Regions from separate parts of the Homo sapiens genome. Here regions 2 and 3 are each linked to region 1. The links come from fine-mapping of genetic effects on plasma protein levels. A gene starts in region 1. Each other region holds a variant in brackets. All regions are shown on one strand. Distances are between the middles of the regions.

Region 1 (9,239 bases):
TTTACACCATTCCCCAAATAACAAGTTAATTATAAATTTAAATGTAAAATGTTACATCCTATGAAAGCTGCAAACCAGAGGAGTGAATGCCTTTGAACTCTTTAAGCTTAAAAGCATAGGAGACATCACAGAGACAAAGGCTGGCAGAAGTACATAAAAGTGAAATCTTCTGTAATTTGTCAAACTGACTGAACCATAAAAGGAAAGGACGGAGTGCAAACAGAAAATCTTTGCACCAATGTACTCATCCGTTAGGCTACTGTAACAACATACCATAGATGGAGTGGCTTACTAGTAACAAAGTTTATTTCTCATAGTTCTGGAGGCTGGGAAGTTCAAGATCAAGGTGCGGGCAGATTCACTATCTGGTGAGGGCCTGTTCCTTGCAGTCTTCTCCCTATAATCTCACATGGAATAAGCAAGGGAGCTCGCTGGGGTATTTTATAGGGTGCCACAGGCACTACCTCCAGATATTCTCACATTGGGGATTAGGTTGCAACATAAACTTGGGTGCACTTCAACATATAGACCATACCAACCAGAATTATGGAGGACAGGTTAGTGTCTTTTACTTTAAAAGGTTAAAACAAATCAATATCATCAAAGAGCACAAACAATACTCACATACACAGAGAGAATTCATGATAGTGGCTGACAATATTGCAGTGTTTTCCATGAGCCAGGCATTATTCAAAAGGTTTTACGGATATGAATACATCTATGTATAGGTTACCACTAGAAGCTCCACTTCGTAGATGAGAAAACAGGGGTGGGATGTTATGTAATTGGTCGACAGTCACACGGTTGGTAAGGAACAGGTTGAGATTCGAGCCCGCAGTGGGCTGCCTCTAGACTCTGTCCCTGACCTCTATGCCAATAGTGATTCAGTTTCCCAAATGTCAAAACAGCGCACATCTATTCTGACATATGCTAACCCAGCAGACACTTCTACAGACATGTACAGATACAGCAAAAATAAAAGAGTACATTAAGACATCTAAATCAGCATCCTCAGGGAGATTTGAGAATCATAGCCATTTAAAAGAAGACACTTCTATGCAAAGAACAGAGTTCTTGGAATTTGAAGATATGAGATCCATAATTTAAAAAAAAATCAATCAAAGCCTGGGCGCGGTGGCTCACGCCTGTAATCCCAGCACTTTGGGAGGCCAAGGTGGGCAGATCACTTGAGGTCAGGAGTTTGAGACCAGCCTGGCCAACGTGGTAGAACCCCGTCTTTACTAAAAACGCAAAAAAAAAAAAAAATAGCTGGCCATGGTGGCGCACGTCTGTAATCCCAACTATTCTGGAGGCTGAGGCAGGAGAATTGCTTGAACCTGGGAGGTGGAGGTTGCAGTGAGCTGAGACCGTTGCCATGGCACTCCAGCCTGAGACTCTGTCTCAAAAAAACAAACAAACAAAAAAACAACAACAATCAATAGTGGGCCAAACCACAGAATGGATACCACAAATGAAAAAGATAGATATATAAAATAGAGCAAATAGTCAAGGAGATGAAAAGTCTTAGAGAAAACTTTAGGTTTGGGAAAGAAATTCAAAAATTCCAGCATTCAGAAGCAGGGGGTGGAGAGAATTAAGAGCAGGTATGGCAGACAATGTCAGCTACCTAGTCTGAAAGACAATGGAAGACCGTGTCCCTTTCCTCCTGGCAACAGAAGCCAAGGTTTTAGCTGAGTTTATTGCTACACAGAATAAAAAGGTCTATTTCCTTCCTATACTCCGTTGCCACTAGGTGCAGTCAAGTGACTAAACGTGATCCAAGGAGATGAGAATAGAAACATTGTGTATGTCTTCCAAAAAAGGCTGCTCAATGGCAGTTGACTTAGGTGGGAGGGGTTCATTTTTGTCCCTCTGTCTTTCTTCCTTCTTCCAGCCTGCAACTTGGAGGTGATAGCTGGAGCTTCAGCAGCTATTTTGGACCATGAGGTTACCTTGAGGATGGAAGCCATATGTGAAGATGATGCAACAGAAAGAGAGGAAGCTGGATTCCCACTCTCACTCTGGAGCAACCATACTAGCCTGAAACTGCTACCTCTGGGCATCTTTTATATGCTGGGAAAAAGAAACTTCTATGTTGTTAAGCCTCTGTTGCTTAGGGATTTTCCATGTGCAGCCAAACAGATACAACAGCAAATGGGGAAAGCTTCACAGGGCTTTCAAGGAGACAAGAGGCCACTCAATAAAGAACAAGACTCCTTTTTAAAATATTTTTCAAAGACAGTAAGGAATCTGTATTCAAGGGGGGAGGCTACTACGATGAGGTTTTGTAGTAGGGGACAGAGATCAGGGTTAACTCCCAAGATTCCTTTTAATAAAGCCATGCCTAGTTCTCACTGGTAAACTTTTCGTCTTGCAAGAATATGAGGATGATCCCAGAAATGCTTCCAGAAGAAAACAAATAGGATACTTTGAATGCAACAAGGGTCAGATTGGCTAAAGATTTCACATAAGAGACTCTGAACTTTAAATAGATGTCTTGAAAATACCAAGGGAAAATTATGCTTAAACCTAGAATCACAAAATGCCAAGTTTTCTTTGACATTTAAAGGACACAAAAAATTTTGAGTATGTAAGGACAAAGAAAGTTTTTCAGATCTTTTCTGAAAGAAATTACTCTAGGTTATATTTCAGGAAAAAAAAATCCAAGAAAGCTGAAATACTGAGGTAAATAAACCTGTAACACTTACAGATAAGTTAAAGAAGAATATTGAACTAAAACTCAGATGATTTTAATGTGGGAGTTTGCTGTGAGGCTGGGGTGGAGAATGGAAGAGAACTGAAAACTTGCTAAAGATCTCCTCTTGTTTTGGAAGATCATATATGTGCTAAATAAACCCAAATGCTGGTAGCAAATATGGTTTCTTTAAAAAAAATACTATTTTTTTTTTTTGAGACAGAATCTCACCCCATCACCCAGGCTGGAGTGCAATGGCATGATCTCGGCTCACTGCAATCTCTGCCTCCGGGGTTCAAGCGACTCTTGTGACTTAGCCTCCCAAGTAGCTGGGACTACAGGCATGCACCACCACGCCTGGCTAGTTTTTGTATCTTTAGTAGAGGCTGGGTTTCACCATGTTGGCCAGGTTGGTCTCAACTCCTGGCCTCAAGTGATCTGCCCACCTTGGCCTCCCAAAGTGCTGGGATTACAGGCGTGAGCCACTGTGCCCGACCCAGAAAATATAAGTTCAATACATTTTAAATCCCTAAAAACATAAAGATTAAAAATCACTAAGAATGAAGAGTAAGCATGGGGACAGGAGGATGACAGAGAAGGGATGGGAGGGACAGAGAAAGGAAGAGAGAGAAAAGAGAAGAGAAAAACCAAACACCTTCTTACTCAAAATAAACATGCACATATTACATTCCCAAGCTCATGAAGAAATTGAATGGCAGGGATAAACATTCCCAAGCTTATGAAGAAATTGAATGGCAGGGATAAAAACTAGGGGGGAAAAGCAAAATACAAATTCACTCCAGACAAAAACAATTTCATAGGTCAACCTGACAAAGACTTTTAAAAGAAGAAGACATCATGGCCAAGTAGAGGGTACTCCATACATGGAAGGAGAACCCTTAAGAAACCTATTTATGATTCAAACAAACAGATGAACGGATTAAAAGGGAAAAAAGGATAAGCTGATCTTGACAGACACTCCTAAATATTTAATAATAAACAAGACATTTCTGGTTAAATGAACAAACAAACCCTGGCAAATGAAGCAGTGGCGGAAACGTTGGCATCACTGAAAGTCTGCCAGAAACCAAAGGCGATGACAGAGTCAAGGGGGCACGTTAGTGTCCTCCTGTCAAAGCCTCACACAGGAGGCTCTCACTATTGTCTTTACTTCCAGTGGTCAATGTCCCTCAGATCATCTCTAAATTCAATGCAATCAACATGAAAATTCCAAAAAGGAATTTAATGGGCTTGGCAAACTGATTTTTATTTTTATTTTTGAGTTGGAGTCTCACTCTGTTGCCCAGGCTGGAGTGCAGTGGCGTGATCTCGGCTCACTGCAAACTTTGCCTCCTGGGTTCAAGCAGTTCTCCCACTTCAGCATCCCAAGTAGCTGGGATTACAGGTGCACACCACCAAACCCGGCTAATTTTTCGTATTTTTAGTAGACATGGGGTTTCACCGTGTTGGCCAGGCTGGTCTTGAACGTCCAACTTCAAGGGATCTGCCTGCCTCAGCCTCCCAAAGTGCTGGGATTATAGGCATGAGCCACTGTGCCTGGCCTTGGCAAACTGATTCTAAATTATAACAAACCAGAGATGAGAGACTTGCTCCATTCGTTAGAAAAATAATAAGGAATGTAGTGACAGCCAAATGGAAGAGAAAACAATAAAGAAAATAACGAAGTATGTATAGAAGCCTAGGATGTAATAGGGGCACTTCAAATCATTGAAGAGAGGAGAAATCACACACTCATAATTAGCAATGTTAAGACAATTAGATGGTAATTATTTTTAAAAGTTACTTTACACATTACTCACTTCTCTAAATTCTAGGTGGGCTAAAAATCTCAAAGTCAAAACCAAAATAGTAAAATTATTAAAACTCTTTCTGTAATCTTAGAGGTTTCAAGACACCAAACCAGAAACCATAAAGTAAAAAGAGGTTTACAAGACACCTGTGATCTTAGAGGTTTACAAGACACCAAAATCAGAAACCATAAAGTAAAAAGTAATGACAGGTTTGACTTAACAATGAAAACATTTTTATATGACATAAGACATCTTAAACATGGTAAAGAAAAAGATAAGTCATAACCTGGGAGAATATATTTTCAACATATATAAATGGATTATTAATACACGTAATAAATGAGTCACTCCAAAAGTTAAGATGTAAAAGAGAATTCAACAGGAGATGAACAAAAATTTCTCCACATTCATCATAAATGAAATCCAAAAGGCCAATCCACATATAGAAAATGTACAACTTCACCCATAATCAGGGAAAGAAAAAAATCACGCGACATTGAGAATTTCCATACATAATATTGGACAAAATTAGAAGATTGATAATTTCTCTAAAGGTAAATTGGACCCTTTATGCACTACCTTGGGGACGTCAGCTTAGCTCAGCTACTTTGAGGCTGATTTGACAATACCTATTATAATTTCTAACGCACAACCTCTGCACAGCAATTCTGCATTTAGTAATTTAGGCTACAGAAACACTTTCACAGATGTGGAAAAATTAGAAACAATCTAGGTGTCGATCAACGTGAGATTAGATGAATTGTGGTGTACCCATCCTAATAAATGCCACATATTTCTTAGGGTTACTTAACGAGTTAAATCTGTATGTATTATTGTAGAAATTTGGAAATATTCCAAAATACAATATTAAGTGAAAAAATTAGGAATATATATATATATATATAAATAAAATAATCCCATTTCTGTAAAAAGAAAAACTACCATCCTGGCACAGTGGCTCAAGCCTGTAATCCCAGCATTTTGGGAGGCTGAGACAGGCGGATCATCTGAGGTCAGGAGTTCGAGACCAGCCTGGCCAATATGGTGAAACCCTGTCTCTACTAAAAATACAAAAATTAGCCACGTGTGGTGGCTCATGCCTGTAATCCCGGCTACTCAGGAGGCTGAGGCAGGAGAATCACCTGAACCCGGGAGGCAGAGGTTGCAGTGAGCCAAGATTGCACCACTGCATTCCAGCCTGGGCGACAAGAGTAAAACTCTGTCACAAAAACAAAACAAAACAAAACAAAAAACAAACAGGAAAAGAAAAACTATATGCTTGTATCATGCTTAGAAAATGTTCTGGAAGAATACATGTGGTGAAAAGAATAAGCTATGGAACTAGGGAAAAGAAATTGCTGGGGACTTTGTCTCTTGTGCTACATAATTCTAGATTATTCTAATTTTCATGAAGGTAGGTTTCTGTGTAGTTGCTTGTTTAGCATTAAATACATTCCTTATACAACTCATGAATTATCCTGTGGTGTTGGTATATCTGTATACTGGAACAATATAAATAAAACTGCTGGATGAAAAAAAGAGTGACCAAAAGCTAATAGGAAATGTTTACTCATTATAAAATGATTACAAAGCAGGAAAGATGATAGAAAAAAATTAGAATTGGGCTGTACAAAAATATAACAGCAGGGTTTTTGAAGACTAAAAATTGCACATATGCAGCTTGTCGCTAGCACCTGTCTGACAAGGTCCCAGTGAAACACCTGCCCTTTCATTCTCAGGGCCAGTACACACACCTGCACACACCCTGAAGCAGGCACCCCAGATACCCACCCACCCAGCCAGCATACTTGGGTACAGAACACACACACCTGGGCCCCAACCCAAATCAGCAACCCAAATCAGCAGGGCAGAGTGTCATAACTAAAAAGACAGACAGACAGAGAGAGAGACTGAGAGAGAGAGAGAGAGAGAGAGAGATTGCTGGATAGTGCCTGGTATGTCTCTGGGCAAAGTGCTGGGCTCTTTCTCAAGTTCAAAGTGAGCTTCTCAAGCCACACCGCACCCAGCTCTGGGCCTCAGCGCAGCAAGCTTCCAGGTTTCACCCTCTGCCTCTTAGTCTCTCTGCACTCCTGCATCCCCAGACATCCGCACATGCACATACACACACAGGCACACACACAAATGCACACACGGGCAAACACACGAGCATGCGTTCTCTCTCTTTCTAAACCAAGATGTCAGGGACTATCCATGCTCCCCATTCCACAGATGAGGAGACAGAAGCCCAGGGTGGACAGGGGGTGCTCTCACTACCACCAGCATCTTAGTGACAAAGCGAAGACAGACTATAGGTGCCTGACTCCCAGGCCTGAGCTCTCTTCACCCCACTAGGCGTCCTTCCCACCAGGACCAACCAGATCCCGCTAGCGAGGCTGAGTCCTCCCCAGAGCTCTCCTACAACACCCAAGCAGCTTGGCACCCCTGGCTGCCTCCCCATCCACTGGCCGCCCTAGGAGTCTGGGCTCAGGTCATCCTAAGAGGCCAAGCCCTAACTCCTCCAAGTCCCCAGGGCACAGCTACCCACAGGACGCCCCCCAGGCTCCCCCTGTCCTTTTTCATCCTGGACTCCCCACATTCCCCCCTGCTCTGACCCCACCCCTCAGCCCTGCTCCTGGACGCCGGGCCATACCTCTGTGTGGTGGGAGAGACCAGTCTTCTTCTGGAGCCTCTAGGCAGAGTGAGCCTCCCACGTTTCCTATTTATGTTGATGTCATCAGGAAACAGAGAAGCAGAAAGAGGAAGCAGTGCCGGCCCAGGCCTACTTTGCTAATAGTGCACGTGACTTTTCTTACTTCCAGAAAGCCTCCTACTCCAATTTACCTTCCTATAAACTCCTAGGCCTCCTTCAAGCCTCAGCTGACGCAGGGCCTCCTCCATGCAGCCTTCCCTGACTGCTTGATGGGGATGCAGGTGGAAGTGGCTGCAATAACCATAGCTGGTTTGAGCCCAGAGCCAGACAGATCTGTGTTGGACTTCCAAGTCCACTGCTTCTTAAAGCGTGTCCTTGTGCAAATCATCTGCGTGTTACTTCCCCAAGCCTCGGGACATCCATCTGTCTGTTACTTTTGCAGAAGCATCTACAAACCTGGAAGGACTGTTGAGGGAATCCAGTGAGATTCTGTGCAGGAAGACCTTAGCTCAGAGCTGGCCACAGGAGAACCCCCTACAAGTGGTAGCTGGTGGCATGTTGATTTCCCCGATGTCCTCTTTGCCCTGCCGCCCCACCCCACCATGTGTCATATGGTCATGTGTGTTCATGGCTGTCTTTCTTCTGACACTATCTTCAGTGCTGGCTTGTGTCCGGCTTGCACTTCCCTCCCAAATACCTAGCACATGGCCTGGTACAGAGGAGAAATTGCACCTTTGACTGTGTGCAAATGAATAGATGAATGAATGAATGAATGAATGAATGAATGAATGAATGAGTGGCTCCCTGAGCACAGCAGGGCCAGCAGAATTAAGGTCAGGTGAGTGAGGCAGTCTCTCGTGCTCAAAATTTAAACAGGCATTTAAAAATTCAGTAATTGTTGTAAGTAATATTTTAATGCAATATGGTTTAAAAAAATCCCAACTGATGCAGAAACTATTCACGGTGAACCAAATATGAAAAGTTTGAATAAAGACAAGATGAATCACAGTGCCAAGACACAACAAAACGCAGTCATATTTCTCCTACATGGGGCTGCCTCCCAGGAGAAAGGGCAGCAGGCAGGAATGAGGGGAATGGAGGGCAAGAATGAGGGGAATGGAGGAAATGGAGGGGCAGGAACCTGCCTCGAAGCCACTGGAATTCTGGCCTGATTGTTGTTCTTTGCTTTCCTCCTACCAGGAAGGGCAGGGTTGGCCAGGAAGAGCTGGCAGGGCCTCACCCTAGCAGAGAAAGCCCAGGGTAGAGGAAGGCATGTGTGGTTCTCTCAGGCACTCCGGTCAGTGTGAGGTCCCTGCCTGGCATGGAAAAACCCTGCAGGGGCTTCTCCAGGGCTGGAGAGGATGGAATTAAAGTGACGTCCCGGGCTCTCTTTTCTCCCAGGTGTCCCCACTCTGCCTGTCTTTGCTGAGGTCCTCTGTGGGACTGGGAGGCTGCGGGCCTGGATGCCCTCAGGAGCACAGAGGATGCTGTCTGGTGGAGAAACGAAGAACCCGAGACTCTGAGTCAAAATCACTCCGGACACCAGACCCAAAATGTGAAGGAGCTTTAGGAACACCTCAGCCAATTCACTTGACTGACCCTTTCCTTTTAAAAGTCATCATAGAGCAGCAGGGGATAAAAATCTACATTTGAATGAGTCTAACAGAGTTCTCTCAATAAGTATTAAAAGTTCTAAGCGAGAAGAATCACACCGTCAGGAATTCATTGAATGTTTTCGTTTGTTTGTTTGTTTTTTCCTTCAGTGGTATGTAAAATACCGTGTCTTGCAATTGACGATCTTTTAGAGACTAAGAAACCCAAGAAAATGTTGGCAAGAACGTAGTACTCATAATGACCAGGGCTTGAGCATTTACGCTGTGAGCAGACCTTCGGCTGGGGGCTTCTCCATCTCTTCCCAATAACCTTTATGTAGCTGTTACTGTCTTCACCTTACAGATGAAGAAATTGAGGCATGAAAAGGAAGATAACTTGTTGAAAGTAGTAACTCGTATATGTTAACATTGCATTTTTTTCCATTTCCATTTTTATTCTGAAACTATTTCAAAATACAGAGCGTTAAAGG
Region 2 (2,427 bases), 18 kb before region 1:
ATTCCCCAGTGCCCTCTGGGGTCTCGGCTGCCACCTCCAGCCCCACAGAGTCCCCTCACCTGTACCCGTAGATGCCACAGAAGCGGAGGGCCAGGAGCACAGCGATGGTGAGGAAGATCACGATGAGGGCCAGCACCCACATAGGCAGCACTTCCAGCAGCCGGGGAGAAAGAGGAATGTCAGCATCTGGGCGGGAAATCGACCTCAGGGCAGGGAGTGGGGTTGGTGCAGTATTCC[T/C]TAAGACCCCGCTCTGTGCAGGCCCAGGGCTCTGGAACTTACTGCCTTGGGGGATTAGGGGAGAGAGGCCAGATCCATGCTGGGAAGGGCATTGGTCTGAACCCCCACAGTGTTCAAAGTGCTGGGAGGACACAGGAGGGTCAGATCCTTTCCAGGATCTATAGCACAGGAGGTGCTACAGGGAGGGCAAGAACCACTGTTCATGGCAATCACAGGGGACTTCCTGAAGGAGGTGGCATATTAGCTGGGCCTCCAGTAATAGGAAGGATTAGAGGTGGAGATGGGGAAAGGCATAGTGGCAGAGGCACCAGCAGGAGCAAAGGCCCCTCCAGAGGCCCCTGATCCCACCTGCTGCCCAGCCCTGAGCTCCCAGGCCAGGTTCCTCCAGGACTCCCCTCTTCCTCCTCTCTTGGGCCCATTGGTCCGGCCTCCTTTCTACCTGGTTGTGGCCCTCTCCCTGGGCCCCTGCCGCTACCAAGCCTGGCTGGGGACTTGGGTTGCTCCCAATATCTCCTGTATCCTTACTCTCTCTGAAACCACCCCTTGGACTTGTCTTGTTCTGCGGGAGTCGCCTGGTGGTCACTGTGGTGAAAGGTGAGGGGTCAGTGCACGCAGCAAGTGCAGGGAGGTGGGAAGATGAAGGAATCACAGCAAAACCTTCCAATCCAAGGACCCAGTCTGTGGCTCTAGATTTTCTTGCTTCCATGGTAACAGGAAACTCGGGCTGAGCAACCACAAAAACTTGGTAGTCCCAAAAGCTAAGAAACCAAGGGCCATATTAACAGAAGCCTAAGTCCCAGTTTAAAGGAGGAGCGATCATGAGACCTGCTCTCCTCTGCTCCCTCAAGTCCTCACTTGCAGTCTGTACTGAACACCAGGTGTCACTTTCCAACGACTAGTGGTCCAAGGGAGGGAAGGAGGCCTGAGTGGAGTGGGGTCTGGAGCCCCACATCTCTGTGCCCACCCAGAGATGTGGCATCCTCTGCCCAGCTGTGCTGTCTCATGAAGAGTGGGTGGAGAACTTCTGACTCCACGCCCAGTTTCTGCCTGCTTTACTCTTTGCCTCTTTCAACTTGCGGGTCTGATGACCAGGTGGGAGGTGCTCTCTGCAAAGGCCTTCCCTTTCTCTTTGGCCACCATCTAATCGGGGAGACGGCTCACCTACAAGTTGTTGCAGGCCTGCTACGGCTGCTGCATTGGGGATTTTCTGGCAGTGAGAAACTATGAGCTGGTCCTGGCCAGAAGCTCTGGACTCCAGCCTTCACCTACCCGACTCGGTGTCCCAGGAGCGCGCCTCACTCCACTCGCTCCAGATCCCGTTGTAGCCGGTGCGGGAGGTCCTGACCCTCACCCTGGCCCAGTACCTGGTGGAGGGCTCCAGGGCTGGCAGGGCCATGCTGTGGGCGTTCTGGAGGGTCTCGGTCTTGCTGTCCTGTGGGTTGGCACTGAGGGTGAGGCCTGGCCCGGTGCCCGTGGGAGCAGCTGCAAATCCCTCCCACCTGGACCCTCGGCTTCGCTGGCTCCTAGCTCCTGCCATACCCCAGGCCTGCTGCGGCTTCTCTCTCACCACCGTGGATCCTCCCTGAGGGCCCACCCACGGACAGCACTTCGGATGGCACCGGGGACTCCACCTGTCAGTGCAGCCCCTGACATTGACAACACTGAGGCCCAGAACCCTGAAGCCACCTGTCCCACCCTATTTTGAGCCTTCTCAGCTCCCAGCCCTTCTGGGGCAGCTTGCACCCATATTGTGGCCTTTTTAGGAACGCAGTGCAGGCCGACTGGACTCTGGACCCTGAGAATGGGGGTTCAGGACCCCAGGGCCCGCTCCTGGCTCCACCACTGGCCCACCTCCCTCCTAGCCTCAGTTGCCCCATTTCTAGACTGAAGGTGTGGGGTTGGTTCTGTGGTTTCTGTTCTGGGCTCTGTGGAGGCAGGGGACCGAGCCCTGGCCTGGGCGCACCCCCGACTCATTAGAAGCAGCTCTGTCTGAGCCTCCATGTGTGTCCAGATGAGATTCCTCTGAGGAAATAACCCCAAACTTTCATGACTTTTGAAAACCTTCTTCCCAGTGGCCTTTCAACCCCTCCCTGCCCAGAGGGTCTTCTGTTGCCTGGGGACTCAGGGTCAGCTGTTCACGTTGGCCAAGCCACGCCACTTTTCCAAACCTCAGTTACTTCACCAAGAGAC
Region 3 (5,000 bases), 13 kb before region 1:
AACTTGCCCTAAGGAAAGGCAGCTAAGCAGTGGTAGAGGCAAAGATTGCAATCCCACCAGTGTGATGGGCTCTCTTGTCTGACACTCTCAGAGGTGTAGGGAGTTGACTAAAGGCCAGGACATTCACACGTTCTCATCGCCAGAAAATCCCCAATAAAGCGGCTGTAACAGGCCTTCAACAACATCTAGGTGAGGCCTCTCCCCAGCCAGATAGTGGCCAAAGAGAAAGGGAAGCCCTTTGCAGACAGCACCTCCCACCTGGCCGGCAGACCCACAACTTGAAAGAGGCAAAGGGTAAAGAAAGCAGAAACTGGGCAGGGAGTGAGAAGTTCTGAACTCTAATCTTGATCTGCCTACTAATAGCTGTGCAGCTTTAAGTAAGCCACTCAACCTCTCTGAGCTTCAGTCTACCCAAAAGAAAAAAGAGAATGCTTATAACCTTGATGCCTTCACTGTATAAACATAATATGAATGCCCGTAATTTGCTGAGGTCTCTTATGTGCCAGGCATTATATGAGGCCCTTAATATATCCTGTGCTTTTGAACAATCAGAATTCCTTTTTCCAGTGAGGATCCCAAGAGAGTTAATGGTAAATTCAAACCCAGGTAATTAAGACAAATTGGCCTCTGCCCTTCACATATGCTAAAGACTGGATGGAAGAACTTGGTCATCATGAAACAACGTGAGAGGTTCCATTGCACTGGGGTCCTTGTTACATCACAGAAACGAGGGATGTTAACCTCCAAGGATCAACACTATTTGTACACACCACAGGCTCCAGTTGAAAAGTACATCATAGATCAATTACATTAAAGATAGAATATCAGTCGGTGGGGAATTTCGGATATCAGAAAGAGGAAAATCCAATGAGGAATGAAAGGGAAGGTTTTGGTGACAGGACCAGGAGGGTGTGGCTAGCAGTGGAGATTTAGAGAGCTGCAGGATGGGAGAGGGAAGCAGAAGAAAAGGACAAGAGATCAGAGGTTTTAAAGATCTGCTCCTGTTTTTGGCCACTGCCGTCGTGGTTTCATTGCTTCTCTGTTCACTTTTGGTCACTGGACTGCATCTCTTTGAAAGTGACAAACATGAAGACGGGGCCAGGAGGAACCCTGAACTGATTCGGGTTACACAATGAGGGTGTGCTGGTCCCAGACCATCCCCACAGCGGGCTAGGAGCAAACTCACTGTTCACTGAGCTCTTTATGTGTTTCTCTGCCCTCCTTGGCTGAACAGAGACGATGTATTGGCCGTGGGTCGCGGGGTCGGGCACGGGAATCTGGCAGTGGTGCCTGGTGTGGAGGCTGCCGAGCCCCTCCCTCAGCACTGGGGAGCACTCTTCCTCCCTGAGGAGCACAGCAGAGCTGAGGGCAGGGAGAGGGAGGGCACACGGGAGGGAGGAGAGCTTAGGGTGGGCTGTGGCTTCTGCTGGGGCCCCAGGGACAGGAGGAAGCTTGGAGAGAGCAAGGCCAAGAGGAGGGGAGGGGATGGAGAAAAAAGATGCTCACCCTGCATCTGGGCTGGGCTTGTAGAATAGGCCAAAGGAGACCGAGCTGGCCACCTCCTTCCTCACCTCCCAGGAGCAGCTGAGCACGGCGGCCCCGTCAAAGAAGCACTCCAGGTTCTGGGGCTGGGCCTCATCCCCTGGGTTGGAGACAGGTCCTCATGTACTCCGTCATTCATCCCTCCCATAGCTCTCAGTGGGTGCCCACCGTGTGATTCATCACACAGAGGTCATGAGCTCTGGGGCCAAAAGACCAGGGCTGAAACTTCAGCCTGAACCTGCCAGCTGTGTGTCCAACAGCTCCGAGAGAGAGAGAGAGAGTTCTGTGCACCTGCACGCCCTCCCGGGAGAATGGAAATAGTATCTAAGTTTCAGTGTTTGGGGATTGAACTGAAAAATGTGGGTAAGCCCTGAGCATCCTGTAGCCTCCATTAACACACAGCTGCTAATAGCACTGTTGTTGTTATTATTGTAATTGCCATTGGCAGAGAACGTGCAGAAAACTGGAAACCCAAAGTGAACAGATGCAGAGTCCTACTGGTCAGTGGTCACAGTAGAGGTGGGACGGCCCAGGGACGCTACTGGAAAGATGGCAGCAGGAGATCTGGGAAGCCCCCAGGTGGAGCCCAGGAACCCTGCTGTGCCAGGAGCTCCTGATGAGCCTGCCCTCCCACCACGGGGCATTTCCTGGGCTCTGGCAACATTACCTGGCTGGGAGTCCCA[G/A]CAAACCTCTGGGCTCCACTTGCTGGGACGTCCTGAGAGCCGAGAACCTGGGGCCAGGCGGGTCCGTACTCGGGCCACGTAGGTGCTGCTGGGCATGAGGTGCTCTGGCCCCAGGGTGGCCTGGGAGGTGTTGGAGAGGAGGATGGCTGCGTCCTGTCAGGAGACAGTGGGTGCTGGAGGAGGGGTGCTGCCCATCCCTTCGGGCTGGGGCAGAGCTGGCCGTGGTTCCTACCTCCCAAGAGTCCTGAAGCCGCTTGTAGACCACCTCAAACTCCAGATCCCCTGGGGACAACCAGTGGCTCTGGGGACTCCCAAGGGCCACACTCCAGGTCAGCAGGAAGTGGTCCTGGTCGGTGCTGATCTGCAGGTCCCTGGGCTCAGGAGGCTGGACTGGAGGGGAGGAAGTGAAGGGCACCTAAGGGCTGGACCGCTGGGGGGCAGTCAGGGCCTGCATGGCCTTTTGTGTGGACACAGGGGGTTCCAGGCCACCCCTGCCCCCAGCAGCTGAGGGACCTTGAGCAAGACCCGTCTCCTCTGTGAGCCTCAGCCCTTCATCTGCAAAACTGTAGGGTTTCAACATGAAAGCAATGGAAAGCCGTGCAGATTGCAATGCGCACGTGACCCGAACTCCATAAAAAGCGCTGGCGAGGAAACTCATTGGAGCCTCCTCTGTCCTGAGGCTCCCCACTGCCCACGCTGCGGCCTGGGTGGCTCCTGCTAGCAGAGGGGCCTGCGGTTCAGCGGCCTCCCCCCTCCTGCTGTCCAAGCTCCCTTCCTCCTGCCCAGGGTCCTTCCTGTTGTCAGTGCCCCGGGCAAATGCCTCCGGCTCTAGGAACATCCTCGGATCTGCATCTCCAGGCGGAATCCCTCATTCCTTCTCTCATTTCACCATAGCTCAGTGGAATTCCCTCCACCAGGGCCTTACCACAGCTGAGGGATTCCTATGCTTCTGTGTCTGCCTCCCCTAAGGTGTGAGGAGATGGGGGTGGGTGGGATTGGTCCTGACCCCCTTCCCTACCTCCAGGCTGAGATGCGGCTTCTCAGTGAATTATGGGGCAAGGTGAATGAGTGAATGAATGAACAAATACGCGTAAGCAACTTTGGGGCTTCTCATGAAATCCTTGCAGCCACAAGGCAAGCATCTATCTCCTGGGAACTCTGGGTTGTTCAAGAAAATGCAGAATGAAGACACGGCACCTGATTTCTGGTTTCTGGTGTCTGCTTGCTGAGGGATGGCTTTCAAACGAAAACATCCTCACACATAGGATGTAAGTGCTCTCTGCTGGACATGGGTTATGGCATGCTAGAGCATGTCAGGAACCATCAACCCAGAACGGCAGACACACAGCAGGGGAACCGCCCCTCCTCACCCACAGCCAGGACAGGCGTCCCTCATGGGTCACTGCACTCCCAGCCCCCGAGGCTGTCATGGAGGGGGAGCTCTTCCCGGCAGAGCCCTCTCGGAAGCTGCCACAAACTGCGCAGACTGGGAGCCCCATCAGAAACCTGCTCAGCCAACTCAAGAGAAACCTCTTGAGTCCACCAGCTCATTTCACAGACGGAGAAACTCATAGAGGAAGTAAAATGTCCAAGGTCTCCAAACATGGAGACTCAGAGCAGATCAGATGCATGCCTGTCGCCTGCCCAGTACCTCCCAGCATCCTTGATTCATTGCTAATCTGCATTAGGCTGGACCCTACCTCGCTACTCAACACAGGCTCCAGGAGGCCAAGGGCCACACTTCTCTCCCTATATCTAAGTTGTCTCCATCGCCTTAGAAACCTTCCTTGTTTCCAGGCTGTAAGCTCCAAGGGCAGGGTTGCTGGCTGGTTTGTTGACTGCTTCGTTGGCTTATGTAGGCGCTCAAGGAAAGAAGGTTGAATGAATGAATTGTGTGTATATCTGAACTATGATTTGCATGCCCTCATGTCCCCATCTCCTAGCCAGTTGTGTCCTCATCATTTCTAGGAATGAGTGCTTTAGGCCACAGCCTGAATTTCAACTTCTTTCCCAACTAATGCTCCTCCAATCTACCCTGTAAGTCCCCTGTCCCCAGCATTCTCACATCCACATCTGATCATGTCATTTCCCCTCAGTGCTCTCCATGCCTAGAGGGTCCCCTCTACCTGAGACTGCAGGAGACAGAAGCCTCTCCAGGGACAGGTCCTTACCTGTGTCTCCTGCTTCTTCCCACCGCTGTCCAGCCCTTGAAGCTGATGCTCCCTGGACACAATGGTGAGCAGGTTCCCCAGCTGCCCATGCCCTTCTGATCCCCCAGCCTCTGCACAGCTGTTACCCTGCCAGAGAGGCTCTTACTGCCCTCCCCTCCTGTCTACCCTTCAGATCTGAGTTGCAAAGCTCTTCCCTCTGGGAAGCCTGTTCTGATCTCCCAGGGGCCCTGCCCTTTACCCCCTGCATGAGGCACCCACCCGCCACTGTCAGTAAGTTCTCACGGTGGACGGCATACAGTGTTTCCCCTCCCTCCAGCCTGGGCCCCCTGAGCTCCATTCGGGAAGGAAGGGACTCTCGTGTCCATCAAACCCATGTGTGGAAATGTTGCTTCTGATGGACTCCTGGTGGCCTAACTGATCCCCTCCTCTGGCAGTGGCTTTATGATGTTGTGGCAAAAAAGGGCAGGAAGCCATGGTCAGAGCCCCTTCCGTGTGACCCTTGCAAAGAGCACCAGGTGGTTCGGTGGTTAGGACCGGGGACTCAGACCATCCTGCACTGGATCTCAGCTCTGCCAGCAGCAGTAGAGAGGCCTTGGACTAGTCA

Direction of the effects. Alleles are on the strand shown, and positions count from the first base shown. The strength of an association depends on the size of the effect and on how common the allele is.
With allele C in place of T in region 2, the plasma level of the protein whose gene starts at base 7,206 in region 1 is lower (strong association).
For the plasma level of the protein whose gene starts at base 7,206 in region 1, A is the high allele of the variant in region 3 and G is the other (weak association).

The links. PIP is the chance, under the fine-mapping model, that this variant and not a neighbour inherited with it causes the effect. The UK Biobank Pharma Proteomics Project read protein levels with antibody pairs (Olink). The fine-mapping took linkage between variants from a reference panel, not from the people measured, so its PIPs are less certain.
Region 2: its variant is fine-mapped to the plasma level of the CSF2RB protein (UK Biobank, PIP above 0.99).
Region 3: its variant is fine-mapped to the plasma level of the CSF2RB protein (UK Biobank, PIP above 0.99). The variant lies in the coding sequence of CSF2RB. If it changes the protein, the assay may bind it differently, which can mimic a change of level.

Annotation. Positions count from the first base shown.
Region 1 is chr22:36,911,595-36,920,833 of GRCh38, reverse strand. CSF2RB (colony stimulating factor 2 receptor subunit beta) reads right to left here and starts at 7,206. Exons shown (of 14, transcript NM_000395.3): 1 at 7,157-7,206. It overlaps LOC105373023 (a long non-coding RNA gene), which reads left to right. Exons shown (of 2, transcript XR_938230.2): 2 at 1,895-2,362. RefSeq lists an enhancer at 8,672-9,239.
Region 2 is chr22:36,933,074-36,935,500 of GRCh38, reverse strand. It overlaps CSF2RB (colony stimulating factor 2 receptor subunit beta), which reads right to left. Exons shown (of 14, transcript NM_000395.3): 10 at 1,507-1,669; 11 at 60-150. Among named protein-coding and RNA genes, the nearest start is that of CSF2RB, 21 kb to the right of the region's middle. The variant T/C (reference allele first, on the strand shown) is at 238.
Region 3 is chr22:36,927,017-36,932,016 of GRCh38, reverse strand. It overlaps CSF2RB (colony stimulating factor 2 receptor subunit beta), which reads right to left. Exons shown (of 14, transcript NM_000395.3): 5 at 2,458-2,615; 6 at 2,210-2,378; 7 at 1,507-1,642; 8 at 1,187-1,344. Among named protein-coding and RNA genes, the nearest start is that of CSF2RB, 16 kb to the right of the region's middle. The variant G/A (reference allele first, on the strand shown) is at 2,226.